Linked DNA regions of Homo sapiens: region 1 is linked to region 2. The links come from fine-mapping of genetic effects on gene expression. Tissue or cell type: whole blood. Region 2 holds a variant in brackets; the other region holds the start of a gene. All regions are shown on one strand. Distances are from middle to middle.

Region 1 (8,100 bases), 350 kb after region 2:
GCTCCCTGCAGAGCACCCCATCAGGCAACTCCTTCCAGGAGGGGTGGACGTGGCCCTCCTTTTCAGCTCTCTGATGGCTTTGAGGGCTATGAAGAGGGGGAAGAGGCGCTGCCAGGGCCAGGCCAGGGGAGGGACGGGAATCAGGAGGCCAAGCCTGGAGCAAAGCTGCCCCCAGGAGGGTGCTGATACCAGGATTCTCACCTCCCGCCATTGACACCTGGGGCAGGATGATTCCTGTGCACTGGGGAGGCGTGGCAGCAGCCCCTGCCCCCCAGCTAGATGCCAGAGGTAGCTCCCAGTTGTAACAGTCCAAAGTGACTCCTGATGCTGCCACTGGGTTAGTCAAAGCAGGTGGGTGTGGAACATGGGGACAAGGCAAGGGGTGGACGGTGGCTCTGGGACAGGGGAGGTGTGCCGCGGGCCTTGGCCAGGTTGCTAGTCCTCCCTGTGAAAGGGAAGAGGCAGTCCCACCTCGCGGGGTTGTCAGAGTCCTTCACACAGTGACTGGCCCGGAGTGGGTACAGGGTCATCCCCTGTTGTCACCATGCTTGTGAGCATGGACTCTGAGTGAGGGCTTCTGTCATTTCTCACGCCCAGGCGGCATTCAGGTGCCCCAGGGCTAGGAAAAGAACTTGTGTGCATGCATACACATGCAGTCACACACACACATACTCACACACAGACACGCACTCACACACACAAATGCACTCACAGACATGCACTCATACACAAACACACACACAGACACACACTCACACACAAATGCACTCACAGACATGCACTCACACACAAATGCACTCACACACAGACATGCACTCACACACAAATGCACTCACAGACATGCACTCACACACAAATGCACTCACACACGTGCACTCACACACCCAGACATGCACACACACACACGCACTAAAACACAGACATGCACTCACACATGCACTCACACATGCGCTCACACACATGCGCTCACACACAGACATGCACTCACACGCACTCACAGACACGCCCTCACACAGACATGCACTCACACAGATGCATTCACACATACACAGTCACACACAGACATGCACACACACATGCACTCACACATACGTGCACACACACATGCACTCACACAGACATGCACACACACGCACTAACACACACGCACTAACACAGACATGCACTCACACACAGACGCCCTCACACAGACATGCACTCACACACATGCACTCACACACGCACACACCCAGACATGCGCTCACACACATGCACTCATACACACACAGACACGCCCTCACACAAGACATGCATTCACACACATGCACTCACACTCAGACATGCACTCATACACACACAGACATGCACTCACACACAGACATGCACTCACAGACGTCCTCACACACATGCACTCACACACATGCACTCACACATGCACACACACCCAGACACACACACACACGCACTCACACAGACATGCACTCACATGCACTCACACACAGTCATGCCCTCACCCAGACATGCACTCACACACACTCACAGACATGCACTCACACAGACACGCACTCACACACAGACACGCCCTCACACACAGACATGCACTCACACATATGCACTCACACAGACATGCACTCACACACATGCGCTCACAGACATGCACTCACACACATGCACTCACACAGACACGCTCTCACACACAGGCATGCACTCACACACGCACTCACACACCCGGACATGCACTCGCACACACGCACACACAGACATGCACTCACACACACACTCACACACAGACACGCCCTCACACACAGACATGCACTCACACACATGCATTCACAGACACACACACAGACATGCACTCACACACGCACTCACAGACATGCACTCACACGCACTCACACAGACATGCACTCACACACACGCACTCACACACATGCACTCATGCACTCACACACAGAGACATGCACTCGCACACAGACACACACTTATACACACATGCACTCACACACAGAGACATGCATTCACACACACGCACTCACACACAGACATGCACTCTCTCACACACACACACGGGTTTGGAAATTGAAGTCTTTCTTAGAAACAAGAACAGACCCAGTAGAAACGAGAAGGAAGGAAACGCCCTCTGGGGTCTTTGTCCACAGCCAGGGGACCCCTGGCCCTTGAAACTTTAGGAAACCCGCTTGATTGAAATCCTGATTAACTCGAGAGGGTTTCTTAGTTCTTCCCCATTTTCCATGGAAAGGGAGATCCCAGGACCTGGAGGCCCCAGATGATGCCATGGAAATGTGAGCCAAGCCTCGAGCCTCTGGGGCCTTTCAGCCCCTGCCCCTTTTTCAATTCACGTTTTCGCGTCCACTGGCAGGAATGCCATGTGCTGCGATGCCAGCACAGAAACCCCACTGCCATGTGCAGTTCCTTTTAGTTTATTCTATACCGTTCGCAGAGTCCCAAAACAGCTTCAGGAGGCAGACCAGATTGGGGGAGGGGCAGGCCCACTCATTGGCTCCACCAGAAGGCCCGTGGTTAGGCCACACCTTGCTTTACATAATAAAGGTGTCCTTAAAAGGGTGTGCAACTTGAACTTGCGTAAGTAAAGCGTGCTTGACCTGCTCCCGGGGGACCTTTGTCTGAAGGACTAATTCTGAAAGCATTCCTTTCTGCGAAGTCCCCCCACTGCCACCCTATTTCTTAGAAGTCCACCAAGTTCATGACTTGGGATCCTCTGAAGTGGGGGAGGGCGATCCGTCCCCAGATGCTGCCCGTAACGCTGCACCCCTGCCCTTGGAGGAGGCCCACACGCCCCTGTCTGGGACAGCCGGGGACGGGCACGTACTGGGCCAGGGGGCTCTGCCTGGAGCCATCTCCGCCGTGTGGCCTTGGGCAGGTTCCTTGTCTTCTTCAGGCCTTGGTTTCCTTGGCTGTGAATGGAGATGTTGGACAAATGACCGGTAAGGGCCTCTCCCTCTCTAGGGGCCTGGATGGCTCCTAGCGCCCCACCAGCAATGCTGCCGAACTCACGGGCCAGTCTGGGGCAGTCCCAGGGCTGGACAAGGGACCCAGAGTGGAGACACGAAGGTCTGGGGGCAATGTTAGCTCCCACCTATGAGAAAGCGTGCCATGGGGACCTCCTTATGGTGCCTTCGAGGGCCAACTTGAGCCACTCAAACCGAACTTGCCCAGGCAGGTGCCAGGTGCCAGTCGGGACATCCCCCACCTCCTAGACAGAAGCACAGGGACAAGCGTGTCATGTGTGGGCACCTGGGGAGCTGGAGCGCAGGCCAGGGATGGAGATAGAGCAGCCACTGGAAGCCACATGGGTAGCATTATGGCAGACGTTTTTTAAGTTGTGCTGAATGCAGCGTTTCCGTCTCAGCAGCAAGGCCTGCCATTCTGGGGTGGGCTGGCTGGGGAGTGTGAAGAGGGGGTTCAGGGAGCAATGCCTCAGGGCCCCCCATCGCCGGGGTGGGTCCCATGAAACAAACACCTAGGAAAAGCGGCGCTAAAAATAGCTGGGGGGAGGGTGCGGGGGCGGCGGAGTCTGTAACCTAAGCCGCCCCAGCCTCCGGGGGGCAGACCCCGCGGCCGCCGGCCGGCGTCCGGCCTTCCCAGCACCCGGCCCAGGGCTGGAGCTGGCTGCAGGGCTGGCCCGCGGCGACCTGGGCAGGGTGGCGGCTGCTCCCTCTCCTCCCACCCCGCCCCGAGGCGCAGCGCGCGGCAGAGCGGCTCGGTGCCCGGCGGGCGGGCGGCCCGGGCGGGCCTGCGGTCGGGATGAGGACGGCGCCTCCGCTGCAGAGCGCTGGGGCGGCGCGGGCCGGGAGCTCGTTGGCGGCGGCCGGCGTGGCGGGCGGAGCGGGCCTCGGAGCGGAGGTGAGTGCGGATGCGCCGCCTGGGCGCGCGCGGTGCCTGGGGACCCCGGGCTGGAACGCGGGGCGGGGGTGTCACCGGGCTGCGCGGGGGTCTCCGGCCCGGCTCCCGCTCCTGCGCCCTCGGGGGCCGCTCCCCGGCGGGGCCGGACCCTCCCAGCGCTCGCGGCGCCCGGCCCGGCTCCCCCGACCTCCTCCTCCCGGGCCCGGACGTGCGGGGCAGCGAGCGCCGGGGCCCGGCGGGGGCCGCAGCCTTGCCCGGAGCGGAGCGTTGGCAGCGCGGGGTCCGGCTCCGTGGGCAGTTTGGGAAGCGCCCGGGCAACGTACTGGCGAGGGCCGCGGAGCGAGGGGCTCGGGGAGCGGGACCTCCGGGCGGGGCTGCGGGGAGCGGGGCCCGGGCCGCCCCATTCATCGCGGATCGGAGCCGGGGGTGCCCCAGCCGTGCCGCCGCCTCCTCCGGGCCGCCCGCCCGGGCGTGCTGGCCCCGCGGCGCTCCGAGCGCGGCATAGGCTTGCGAGTCGGCGGTGTCAGCGCCCCGGACGGGGGTGGGAGCTTTGGAGCCCACCCTGGGGGAGACCACGCCGCACCCCCGCCCAGCCCCGCGCACCCCCAGAGGCTTTTGCAGAGCCGGGAAGTTGGCTGGACGTCTAGACCCGTGGGGACGCGGCGCCCCGCGTGGCGGCGGCCGGAAGGGAAGGCCAATGGGGCTCGGGGGACTCCCGCGGCCACCCAGTCCTTGTCCCTGCACCCTGGGCCGAGGGCAGAGGGACAGGTCCCCGGCGGGGGCGGGGGGGCAGCTCAGCTGCCAAGTCCGCTCCTGCAGCGGAGGCGGTTAACTGCTTCATCCCCAGCCGTGAGCCATGCTGGGCATAGGGAGTGTGCCACGTGTTATCACGTTTAATCCTTACGTCCTGAGATCCGTGTTAACCCAAGTCTTAGATGCAGAAACTGATGGTCAGAGTGGGCTGATGCTGGGAAGTGAGCACAGCACGCGGTAGTGTCGTGGACAGCCCCTGCCCATTCTGCCAAGAGCAAGTCTAGTTCCCTTCTGCCGGTCGGGTGGACAAAGGTGTCTTGAGGCCCTCTCAGTGCCCAGCCTGTCCTAGGTGCCCCCAGCACAGCCCACAGCCCTGCATTCCTGAAAATAAACAAAATAAACAGGTAAATGCCTGGACAGCGTCGGGCGTGAGGGCTGAGCAGGGAGCTCGGAAGCTGGGGCGGAGCTGCAGTTTTAGGAAGGGCAGCCAGGCACCCTCGGAGGAGGTGGCCTGGGAGACGTGTCTTCCATGCCATGCGCCTGGCAGGTCCCAGACCACAGGACAGAGCTCACCGGGAGGTGATCATTCTGCCCTGCAAATAGAAAAGAGGAAGAGGATATCTGAGGCAAAAAGGAAGGCCAGGGCCTTCTCAAAGGGAACCCAGGGGCCCCGCAGAGTCTCAGCTTGGGAGGCACAGGTGAAGGGTGTGTGGCTGTAATGCCCCGAGGCTGGCAGCTCTGGGCAGTGTGCAAACCAGGAAGTCCCAGGATTTCAGGGTCAAGGGAAATTTTGGGGTCATGAACTTCAACCCCCTCATCAGCGCTTCAGTCTCCACCAGACCCTGCCTCCAGGTTACTGACTCTGCTTGGATACCTCCAGTGACCGGGAACTCACTCCCCATCACAGCAGCCTGTTCCAGCCATTCCTGCAGTCCTACCAGCTGGAATGCACTGGTCCATCATCCTGAGGCAGCAGGCAGCACATCTGCTCAGCTGTTACACATGGCTGCCTTTGGATAATTTTAATAGGGATGGTCTCCCCCTGTATGCCTAATCTCTTCAGGTCATTTCTGACTTGACATTCCTGGTCAGGCCCCATCCTGCCACCTTCCCCTGGGAGAAATTCAGTGGGTTTCTGCCCTTTCCTCGTGTTTGCTGAACGGAAGTAAACCTGAACACCAGGGTGGCCTGGAAGCAGAGATGCCCTCCCCTCCTTTCTCCTGGAGTCTTGTCACCACCGATAGTGCCCTAGATATCAGGCCATGGTGGACTCATCTGGAGCCCAGATGGTTTCAAGACAAGCCCCCTACCCTCCCTTCCGGTTCTGACTCCTACTAATAATTCAGTTACCAGCCGGGGATGGTGGCTGTGTAATCCCTGCAATTTGGGAGGCTGAGACAGGTGGATCACTTGAGCCCAGGAGTTTGAGGCCAGCCTGGGCAACATAGTGAGACCCCATCTCTACTAAAAAAAAAATTGAAGTAAGTTAGCCAGGCATGGTAGTGTGCACCTGTACTCTCAGCTACTAGGGAGGCTGAGGAGAAAGGATTGCTTAAACCCAGGAGTTCAAGGCTGCAGTTAATGATGATCGTGCCACCGCATTCCAGCCTGCGTGATAGAGTGAGACTCTGTCTCAAAAAAAAAAAAAAAAAATTCTGTTACCCTGCCTGCCTCCTTGTCCAAACATAGGGCTGATGATGTGGGGAATGCCTGTGTAGTAGTTAAGAGTCCAGGCTCTGGGAACAGCTGCTAGGGGCTGTGTGGCCTTGGGTGAGTGACCAAACCCCTCTGGGACTTTATTTCTCATCAGAAAAATGGGGAGCCCTCACAGGGGTCAGTGGGACGGGCTGGTGTGTGGAGCACCCTGGCACAGGCCTGGCACACTGCAAGTACTTGGTAGGTACCAGCTGCTGTGGTTGCAGCCCATGGGTTTCAGGAGACTCCGTGGGACCTGTGGAGAGGGTTCTGAGGACAAGAAAGACCTGAGTGGTGCAAGGTGCCAGCTAAAAGCCCAGATGGAGGCCGCCATAGGGAGCAGGGATGCCGGTGAGGCACAAGCGGCCCGGTCCCGTGGACTCTGCCTTCCCCATCTTCTTCCCAGCGCCCTCCCCATCTTCCCAGCGCCTTCCCCATTTTCCCTCCTGGCCAGCCAGCCCACCCTTGCTTTGGTTCATTCTAGACCTGCAGGGTGGGGAGGAGACCTGGGAGAGTGTGACCAGCCCGTCCTCCTGCTCACTGTGGGCGGTGGCCATGCTCGGGTCCTGCATTCCAGGCCACAGTCCAGCCCTGTTCTGACTCCCTGATAAGGGTCCTCATGGGTTCATCTCAGGATGTGTGTTCTCTCTTCCCGCCTCCTGCCCGGGACCCCACCGTCCCGCCCCATCTCCACCGGCGACTGCCTGCCCTTCTCCCCTAGACATCACCCCCACCCTCGTGGGAACACCCCTCCTCTCCCTGCTGCCCTCACGCATCCTGCATCCCACCTCCCATCACTGGTGTCCCATCTACCCTGCAAGGCCATCCCCCTTGACGAAGGGGCCCTATTCAGGCCGGATCCCTTCTCCCCGGGCTCAGCAGGCGCTGGCCGGTGACTCGGAGGGTCCCGTCACATCCAGGGCCCTCTAGTGATTCCTTTCCAGACACAGCTCCATCCACCTACCTCGAGAGACCAGCCGCTTCCAGGTCAAGCCTGTCTCCAAGTGGCTTTAAGGTCCCAGGCCTCTCAACTGAACCCCATGAGCCAGCCTCGTTCTCTGATGGAGCTGACCTGCTACATGCTGGGGGCTGGACAGAGCGTGGTGGAAGGCAGTGGGTGGTTCCGTGAGGATGGGGCTCTGTGAAGTAGCCTTGAGGTGGCTCAGGGCCTGTTTCTTTGGCCACTCCCTCCCCGTGCTCATCATTTGCCAGTGGTCATGGTGGGGGTGGCAGATGCTGTCCTCAGGGACTGGCTGCAATCGTATACTTCAGAGCTAAGGACTTCCATTTCCCTGGGTAGAAGGAAAGATGGGCCAGTACAGTTGGGCAGGTTGTTCACTGCACGTCGGCACCCAGTCTATACTCTGCTTGTCGGGCCTCCCCAACCTCCAAGACTGTGTCCACCCAGGGGAGCGCCTTGTGCTAGACACCCAGAGACCCGCGGCAGCCCTGGGTCAGGTGCGGACGCCGTCCGCACCCCTGAGGACCTTCCATTGCAACCCCATCCTGCGTGCCTGCGGAAGCTGCCCTCAGTGGCCGGAGGGTTGCGGCCTTGGCCCTCCTCAGGTGCTATCGGCCGTCCAGCCCCCTCATTCCTGTGAGTCCACGTCACTCCCGGTTCTCCCCCCTTGGTCTGGGTTCACCAGGCTGGCTTCAGGGCGGGGTGGGAGCGGCGGGCAGGACCCACCCCCGGGTGCCGGGGGACTCGGGCCGCGGTCAGCACAGCCTCCAGATGTTCTTCAAAGCATGCCCCACCCCCTTGGCTGCTTGCGGTTGCTGGTCCCGAGT
Region 2 (8,100 bases):
GAGGGACTTTTGATACCTAATCGAGTACTTAAAAAAACCCAAACACTTCTTCCTCTGTTTTAATTATTTCCACCATTTTAGTCTCAATGGGAACAGATTTTTAGGGTTTGGGCAGTAGAGTCCGAACTTGAGGCTCTTGGTAGTTGAAACGGGACACTTTTCAGCTTAATCTTTTTATTACTACAATTTTGGATTCCATCCATGTATTTTCCTGTAAATTAGTGAAGTTGCATGAGCCAGCTAGAGAGGCCACTGCATTGAAGAGCCCTTCCCATCATGCCCACATTCGTCATCGCTACAGGGATGGGGTCCTGTGGCCTAGTGGGAAGTGGCCGGGCGTGCAGTGGGGCGCTGGCTCCCTCCTGTCACCTGCTCCGCCGTGGCCTTCGGATCCTCAGTTTTCTCCCTGTTGAATACAGGGCATCTCTGGATGCTGCTCAGGGCGTGCTGAGAGCTCTCCGTAGCGCAGGTGGTAGAGAACTGGGGGTCCCAGGACAGTTCTCTGCGTGTGCACGGTGAGCCCCAGGAAGACGATGCACCTGGCTTTGGCCCCACAGTGAGAGTAGGTTGTGCCCACTCGGCTTGTGGTATAGGGACTCCAGGGATGAGGACACAGGCCCTGCCCGTAAGGAGTTTGTACTCTAGTTGAGAAGGCACGATAGAGAGGCGTCGGGAATGACATAAGCAAGCCCCGGACCTGAGCAGCGATGGGAGGGTGTCTTGCAGTCCGTTGTCATCACTATTTACACAGGAGCAGCCACTGTGCGCCAGAATGTTCTGGGTGCCTGACCCCCATGGGTGGACACAACAAAGGCCCCTGTGTTTATGAGGGGGACAGAGTAACAGTGCATACATGAATTCTCCAAACTGTGTTTGCGAGGGGAACAGAATAACAATACATGCGTGAATTCTCCAAACTGTGTTTACCAGGGGAACAGAGTAACAATACATACATGAATTCTCCAAACTGTGTTTGTGAGGGGGACAGAGTAACAATACATAACTTGAATTCTCCAAACTGTGTTTATGAGGGGGACAGAGTAACAAAAATACATACTTCAATTCTCCAAACCGTGTTTACCAGGGGAACAGAGTAACAATACATACATGAATTCTCCAAACTGTGTTTGCGAGGGGAACAGTAACAATACACACCTGAATTTTCGAAACTGTGTTTGTGAGGGGGACAGAGTAACAATACACACATGAATTCTCCAAATGCCGGAAGGTGGTCAGTGCTCTGACAAAACAAGTGGGAGGAGGGTGGGAGCCCAGGAGGGCGGGAGGGCCAGGTGGTTATCCAGGGGGATGGTGAAGCCAGGACATGAAGGAAGGGAAGGCGGTGGCCGAGCAGGCCCGAGTAGGCAGAGGACCAGCGAGTTCTGATCCAATTGTTGAGGTCCCTGATCTCACCCTCTGGGCATTCAGGACCTTGGGTGCTGCTGTGAGCTCAGGGCAGAGGGAAGTTGGGGCGTGGAAGGTCTGGGAATCTTGTGAGAGCCCCAAGTGTGCACCTGGTGTGGGCCGACCGAGTCAGAGGGATCGAGAAGTTAAGTAAATGGAAAGAGTGTGTCATGACACCTTAGTGAGCATTTATATCTCGTGGGGAGCCCCGCCTGTGGGCCAGCTAAGCACCTTCTGTGCAGTGGGCCTTTCCAGACCCTTGCAGGAAGACGGGGCCGGCCTGGCGGGCTGGGGTGCCTGGGTGAGGCCTCTTCAGCGGGCCCCGGCCCTGCAGCCAGGCAGCTCCTGGTGGCTGTCCCGAACAGGCCTCACCGCTTCTCCTTGGATGTGTCCTTCCAGGTCACCTTTTCTATAAATTTGGCATCACAGAATCCGACTGGTACCGAATCAAGCAGAGCATCGACTCCAAGTGCCGCACGGCGTGGCGGCGCAAGCAGCGGGGCCAGAGCCTGGCGGTCAAGAGCTTCTCGCGGAGAACGCCCAACTCGTCCTCCTACTGCCCTTCAGGTAGGCCTCGTGCTGCAGGAGAGGCCGCCCTCCCCCGCTCGGGGCAGCTGGCCTGGTGGCACCCTCAGGGGCAGCCAGTGCGTGGCCAGCGGCTCCACCAGTGGCCGGGAGCCGAGGCCAGAGGCTTGCGCGGTGCGCACGGAGCAGTGGAGCCGCAGGACCTGTGCCTGGCCCCGTGCGCCCTTCACACGGACAGCCTCGGGCCTGCTCCAGGCTCCTCCGTGAGGGACAGAGGGCCTGTTGGGCCTCCCGGAAGTCTTCTGGATGGGGGCAAGGAGGCCGAGGCCTTTGCGTGGGGCTGCCGGCCGTTGTATTCTCACGATTTGCCGGGTGACTCCGGGTGAAGAAGTGGGGTGGATTCTGAATTATGCTTTATTTTTGCTTTGAGTTCATGGCCTTAGTTGGATTTATCCACAAGATAATGGAAACAGTTCTCTTTGAGTTGCCTCTCAGGCATCGCTGGGGGGATTGTTCTCCTTGGAGAATTTTCACTAGGAATGACAATGTGACTTGATACTGCCTTTCACCCAAGACATCTCAAAATATTTTAGTAAGTATTTGAATGAAAACTATTCTCTTAAAGCTCCCCACAGTAGCTGCATTGGCAGCGACTCTTGGAACTTGAGCTGTGACTGGGGCTGGGGTCAGGATGCGAGGGCAGCCGTGGGCAGGGCCAGCTCTCCTATTCAGTGGAGTCTTTGTTGGCGGGAACCCTTTGTTCTGGAAGTCCTGGGAGTTGCAGACCAGATCACCTGGAGTTCTCCCGGGGCCTGGTTCTTTCTGAACCGGACTTCAGGAAGTGGTTTTCTCGGGCTGTTTTGGTAGTTATCAGATACTCGGCCTCAGCTGCTGCCCAGGGGCTTGAGGATGGGAGGTGGCTGCCTGTAGTGGGCCACACAAGTTGTGTCCCTAAAGCAGCGCTTTATTGAGTGACCTGTGTTGAAGAAGCTCTTCTATTCTAGGCCTTTCTACTACAATGAGGAATTCTGCCTTGGGACTTGAGAGAGGTAGCAGTCCTGGGGTGTGGGTTAAGGGCATTCACTGAAATACCATGTAGCAGCGTAACCTGTGGCTATTGAAATGCGGCTGTAGGAATATTGCGCATGACTTGAATTCTGCTCTTGAATATTCATAGCTAGGCAGCAGAGAGCGATGTGAGGACTATACTTATGGCATGATACCATTTTTATTGCAAATATATAGGTATATGTGGAAGTTGATTAAAAATTTATGTGTGATCATTTTTACAGTGCCTGTCTCTAGGTAGTAGGATAATTTTTATTTTTCCCTTTGTCTTTCATTGTAGTTTCTCAGTTATTTCCAATAAGCACTGCATTAGTTTTATAGTTGTAAAAAATGTTTAAAAGTCAGGGAGCCCAGGCGTGGTGGCTCATGCCTGTAATCCCAGCACTTTGGGAGGCTGAGGCAAACTGATCACCTGAGGTCAGCAGTTTGAGACCAGCCTGGACAACATGGTGAAACCCCGTCTCTACTAAAAATACAAAAATTAGCCAGGTGTGGTGGCGCATGCCTCTAATCCCAGCTACTTGGGAGGTTGAGGCAGGAGAATTGCTTGAATCCAGGAGGCAGAGGTTGCAGTGAGCTGAGACTATGCCACCACACTGTAGCCTGGGTGACAGAGCGAGACTGTATCTCAAAAAAAAAAAAAAAAAAAAAAGCCGGGTGCTGTGGCTCACGCATGTAATCCCAGCACTTTGGGAGGCCAAGGCGGGCAGATCATGAGGTCAGGAGATCGAGACCATCCTGGCTAACACGGTGAAACCCCGTCTCTACTAAAAGTGTCAAAAAAATTAGCCGGGCGTGGTGGCTGGCGCCTGTAGTCCCAGCTACTCGGGAGGCTGAGGCAGGAGAATGGCGTGAACCTGGGAGGCGGAGCTTGCAGTGAGCCGAGATCACACCACTGCACTCCAGCCTGGGCTACAGAGCAAGACTCCGTCTCAAAAAAAAAAAAAAAAAGTCAAGGAGAGGAGGTTTCTGTCAGGCACACTAGCAGGAACCAGATTGAATTCTCTTGCCATTGAAATCTGGACAAAATTTGTGTCTGTGAATCGGCTGTCCTAAGACGTTAGACAAGCAACAGCACAGGACCGTGATCCTGAGAGAAGGAACATGAGAGGAGGGGACAGGGAGATACCGGGCAGAGACACCTGCATCACTGCATGGAGGAGATGGGTTGGAGTTGAGAGAGGCTGAGGCAGCAGAAAGTTGTGGAATCAAGTTCCTAAGAGCAGAGGGTTACACGGGGGCCTTCTTGGGTGTTTGGGGGACTCCAAGGCAGGCATGAGCTCAATGGCTCCTAAGCTCACCCCAGGCTGGGTGGTGGTTGGATTCCCACTGGCCGGAGTCCTCAGTGATCAGTCGCTGCACTAGCAGGCCATGCCTACTGGCAGGCTAAACTATCCCTAGAATAAAGGCAGAGCTTAAGACAGCCTGAGAAAGATCACATTGAACCACAAGTAACAACACTTTTAAAAGAAAGACAACAAAACCTAGACACCCAACAAAGTAAAATTCACAATCTCCAGTATCTAGTCCAGAGTAGCAGGAAGCAGGAGATTGTGACCTATGATCAGAAAATCAGCAAATAGGAAGGGACCCTGTCTGGAATTAACTGACCAGGACATTGAAATCTATTAAAATTACATTCAAGAATTTAAAGGA[A/G]AAAAGGAACATAGCAAGGAGAGAAATAGAAGACATAAAAAAGAACCGTATGGAACTCCTAGACTCGAAGAGTGAGGAGAGTTGTTGCCAGGCTTGCCTTCCATGTGTTTCGGGTACGTGCATTTGGTAAGGTTAGCGGTCTGCTTCATCCAATGGGGAATGAAAACCCAAGTTAAATGACTTGCCAGGACCTTAGTGAGCAAGAAGCTGCTGTTATATAACCTGACGACTGCCAGATATGTTGGCCTGCGTCATTAGGATACCAGAATCTTGAAAGAGTACATTTAATGAGCTGAAATGTCACAGCTGGAAATGTAGACTCAGAGCATTTGCACAGGAGTAGACGGTGGTGCAACAGCGTGTGAAGCCGAGTGTTTTGCTGGCTGCGCTGGTAGGCAGGAGCTTCCTCGGAGCCCTTGTGGTTGCAAGGTGCACTCTGGAGCACACCCATTCTTTGCTTGTCTGCCCTGTGGCCCCAGTGGAGTGTTTTGGAGCTGCTGGGAGAAGCTGTCCAGGGACAGACTGTCATGGTGGCAGTGGGCTGGAAACCGTTGTCTTTGGGGAAACGGTTAGAAATGGAGATTTCACAAGGTTTGATAATGCTTAGATGCCTGGAGAAGTAGCGCATAAGTAAAGAATTAGGCTGGTTTTGTAGGTGCTAAGAGGGTCAGTGGAGGAACAGCAGCTCCGCGGAGGTGGGCTTCAGCCCAGCTGGGATTTTGTCATTTTCTTCCTGGGGTGCACAAGGCTTGCTCGAGGACCTGTGGTGGTGAGTGCTCCGTAACTGCTCAGGCAGACAGGAAGCCGCCGTGGAGCACGCAGCACTGCCTGGCGGTGGTTGCTTTGGGACATGACCCATCACTGGAGGTGCTCAGGTGGAGTCAGGGTCTTTGGCTGGAGCCGAGCTCTCCACATGCAGCATGCAGGTGGGCTTGTTGAATCTCCTTTGAATCTCATGAATTTCAGATTCTGATTTAGTGTAGCTAGGCAATTTCTAGCATATTGCAAGTATCAACATTCTGTTAATGTGACTGGGCACAGTGGCTTACACCTATAATCCCAGCATTTTGGGAGGCTGAGGCAGGCGGATCATTTGAGGTCAGGAGTTCAAAACCAGCCTGGCCAACCTGGTGAAATCCCTTCTCTACAAAAAAATACAAAAAAAAATTAGCCCAGCATGATGGTGGGTGCCTGTAATCCCAGCTACTTGGAAGGCTGAGGCAGGAGAATCGCTTGAACTTGGGAGGCGGAAGTTGCAGTGAGCCAAGGTCATACCACTACACTCCAGCCTGGGTGACAGAGCAAGACTCTCTCTCAAAAAAAAAAAAAAAGAAACCCAACATTTTATTGTTACTTTAAAAAATGTATTCAGTGGAATCTAGGTACTATGGCAATTTAATACCTACCATTAGCTATTGGTAAAAAATACATGGAAAGCTTTTCTCTCCCCTCCCCCGCTCTTGCCCTCCCCTCTCTTGCCCCTCCCCGTCCCTTCCCCCGCTCGCTCTGTTGCCTGGAGCTGAGTGCCATGGTGCCATCTCAGCTCACTGTAACCACCTACTCCCAGGTTCAAGTGGTTCTCCTACTTCAGCCTCCCAAGTAGTTGGGACTACAGACGCGTGCCACCACACCTGGCTAATTTTTGTATTTTTAGTAGAGACGGGGTTCACCATGTTGGTCAGGCTGGTCTCGAACTCCTGACCTGAAGTGATCTTGCCCGCCTTGGCCTCCCAAAGTGCTGGGATTACAGGCGTGAGCCACCGCGCCTGGCCCGCTTCTCTTTAATAATCAATAATTTTATGTCTTTCATTTTTCTCCTTTCATTCATATCAACATTCTACTTCTCTCACAGAATTTCATCTTACTGCTTCCCTCCCCTGTACCCCCGAGATGGAGTCTCGCTCTGTTGCCCAGGCTGGAGTGTAGTGGTGCCATTTCGACTCATTACAACCTCCGCCTCCCAGGTTCAAGTGATTCTCCTGCCTCAGCCTCCTGAGTGCCTGGGATTACAGACCCCCACCACCACGCCTGTCTAATTTTTGTATTTTTAGTAGAGATGGGGTTTCACCATGTTGGCCAGGCTGGTCTTGAACTCGTGACCTCAGGTGATCTACCTGCCTTGGCCTCACAGAGTGCTGGGATTACAGGTGTGAGCCACCGTGTCCGGACTACATTTTTATGCTTAAAAGCTTTTTAAAATTAGTCATTATAATTCTCTGCAACAAAACTACGTGTATACATTGAAAATTAAAAAGTTTTTCTGCGCTCTTAATATTCTGAGAGTTTAAGAAAATTATGATTGAGACATCATTACAGTGAAAATTAATACACAGTACATCAAAGCAAATGTATCTCATTTTGATTAAACACAGCAAGTAAAATTTGTTGGAAATGTATCTTTAAGTGTGCGGATGAGACTTTTGCTCTATTAGTTTAATTACCCATGGACAAATATTGCCAGCCTGAAACAGCTTTTAATGTCCACTTTAAGAACTTCATTCATTTAAATAAGTTGGGGACTAGAAGGGGTTTTGTCATAGCAGCATCACGCCACTCTCAGGCCCTTTTGCATTCCATGTCGGAAGCCTCAGTTCCTAAGACTCACTGGTAGTGATCTCTGCAGAAGAGTGGAGATGCAGTGAGTCGAGGAAAAATGAAGCATTTCCTCTTCTCTGCTGTGGGAGTCGACAGTGGGGGACGGGGGTGCACACATGCCACACCAGGCAATGCCTAAGAAACTTCTCGTTCACCCCGTTCACACCTGTTGCCCCCACAGAGCCGATGATGAGCACCCCACCTCCTGCCAGCGAGCTCCCGCAGCCACAGCCGCAGCCGCAGGCCCTGCACTACGCGCTGGCCAACGCACAGCAGGTGCAGATCCACCAGATCGGAGAAGACGGACAGGTGCAAGTAGTACGTACCCTCTCCACCTCACACCTTGGGAAAGGGGGCTGCGGGGTGGGCCACGGCAGGGCCATGGCGGCTTCCACCGGTTCCGCTGTGTTTTGGGAGCACAGTGATAGCTTGGGAGGAGGCACAAGGTCCCCATTTAAAGTAGAGGTCATCGTGGCCATGAGCTCTTAACATTTCACAGGTGGGGGCGGCTGCTGCAGAGCCTAGGGATTGAAGCACATGGTGGGGTGGGGCATTCAGTCAGCTCACCTCAGTCCTGCCAGCAGGCAGGCGGGCAGTCAGCTCCAAGGGTCAGGCCGTGCGGTGGTCCCTGCCCCAGCTCGTGCTCCTGGGAAACATCGGAAATATTTCTCAGTTCAGAAGTGCAGGCGCTCTCTTACTGAGGGAAAGAGTAATTTCCTTCTAGGATCAGTGGCAAAAGCTTGAGGTCATTGTTCCCATGCAGCGTGTCCCTTGGAGTTACTCAGCACACCCAGGTTGGGCGGGCACTGTCCCAGCAGCAAGTCAATGTCCTGCCTTGCCCGTGCGGAGTTC

What was found. PIP is the estimated chance that this variant, and not a neighbour inherited with it, causes the effect.
Region 1: it holds the start of ZNF469, and the variant in region 2 is fine-mapped to the expression of ZNF469 in whole blood (INTERVAL, PIP 0.98).

The regions. Positions count from the first base shown.
Region 1 is chr16:88,379,391-88,387,490 of GRCh38, forward strand. ZNF469 (zinc finger protein 469) reads left to right here and starts at 3,569. Exons shown (of 3, transcript NM_001367624.2): 1 at 3,569-3,864. RefSeq lists enhancers at 1,296-1,840, 2,385-2,928.
Region 2 is chr16:88,025,680-88,033,779 of GRCh38, forward strand. It overlaps BANP (BTG3 associated nuclear protein), which reads left to right. Exons shown (of 14, transcript NM_001386991.1): 8 at 1,804-1,971; 9 at 7,430-7,566. Among named protein-coding and RNA genes, the nearest start is that of BANP, 78 kb to the left of the region's middle. RefSeq lists enhancers at 1,461-2,031, 4,952-5,453. The variant A/G (reference allele first, on the strand shown) is at 4,654.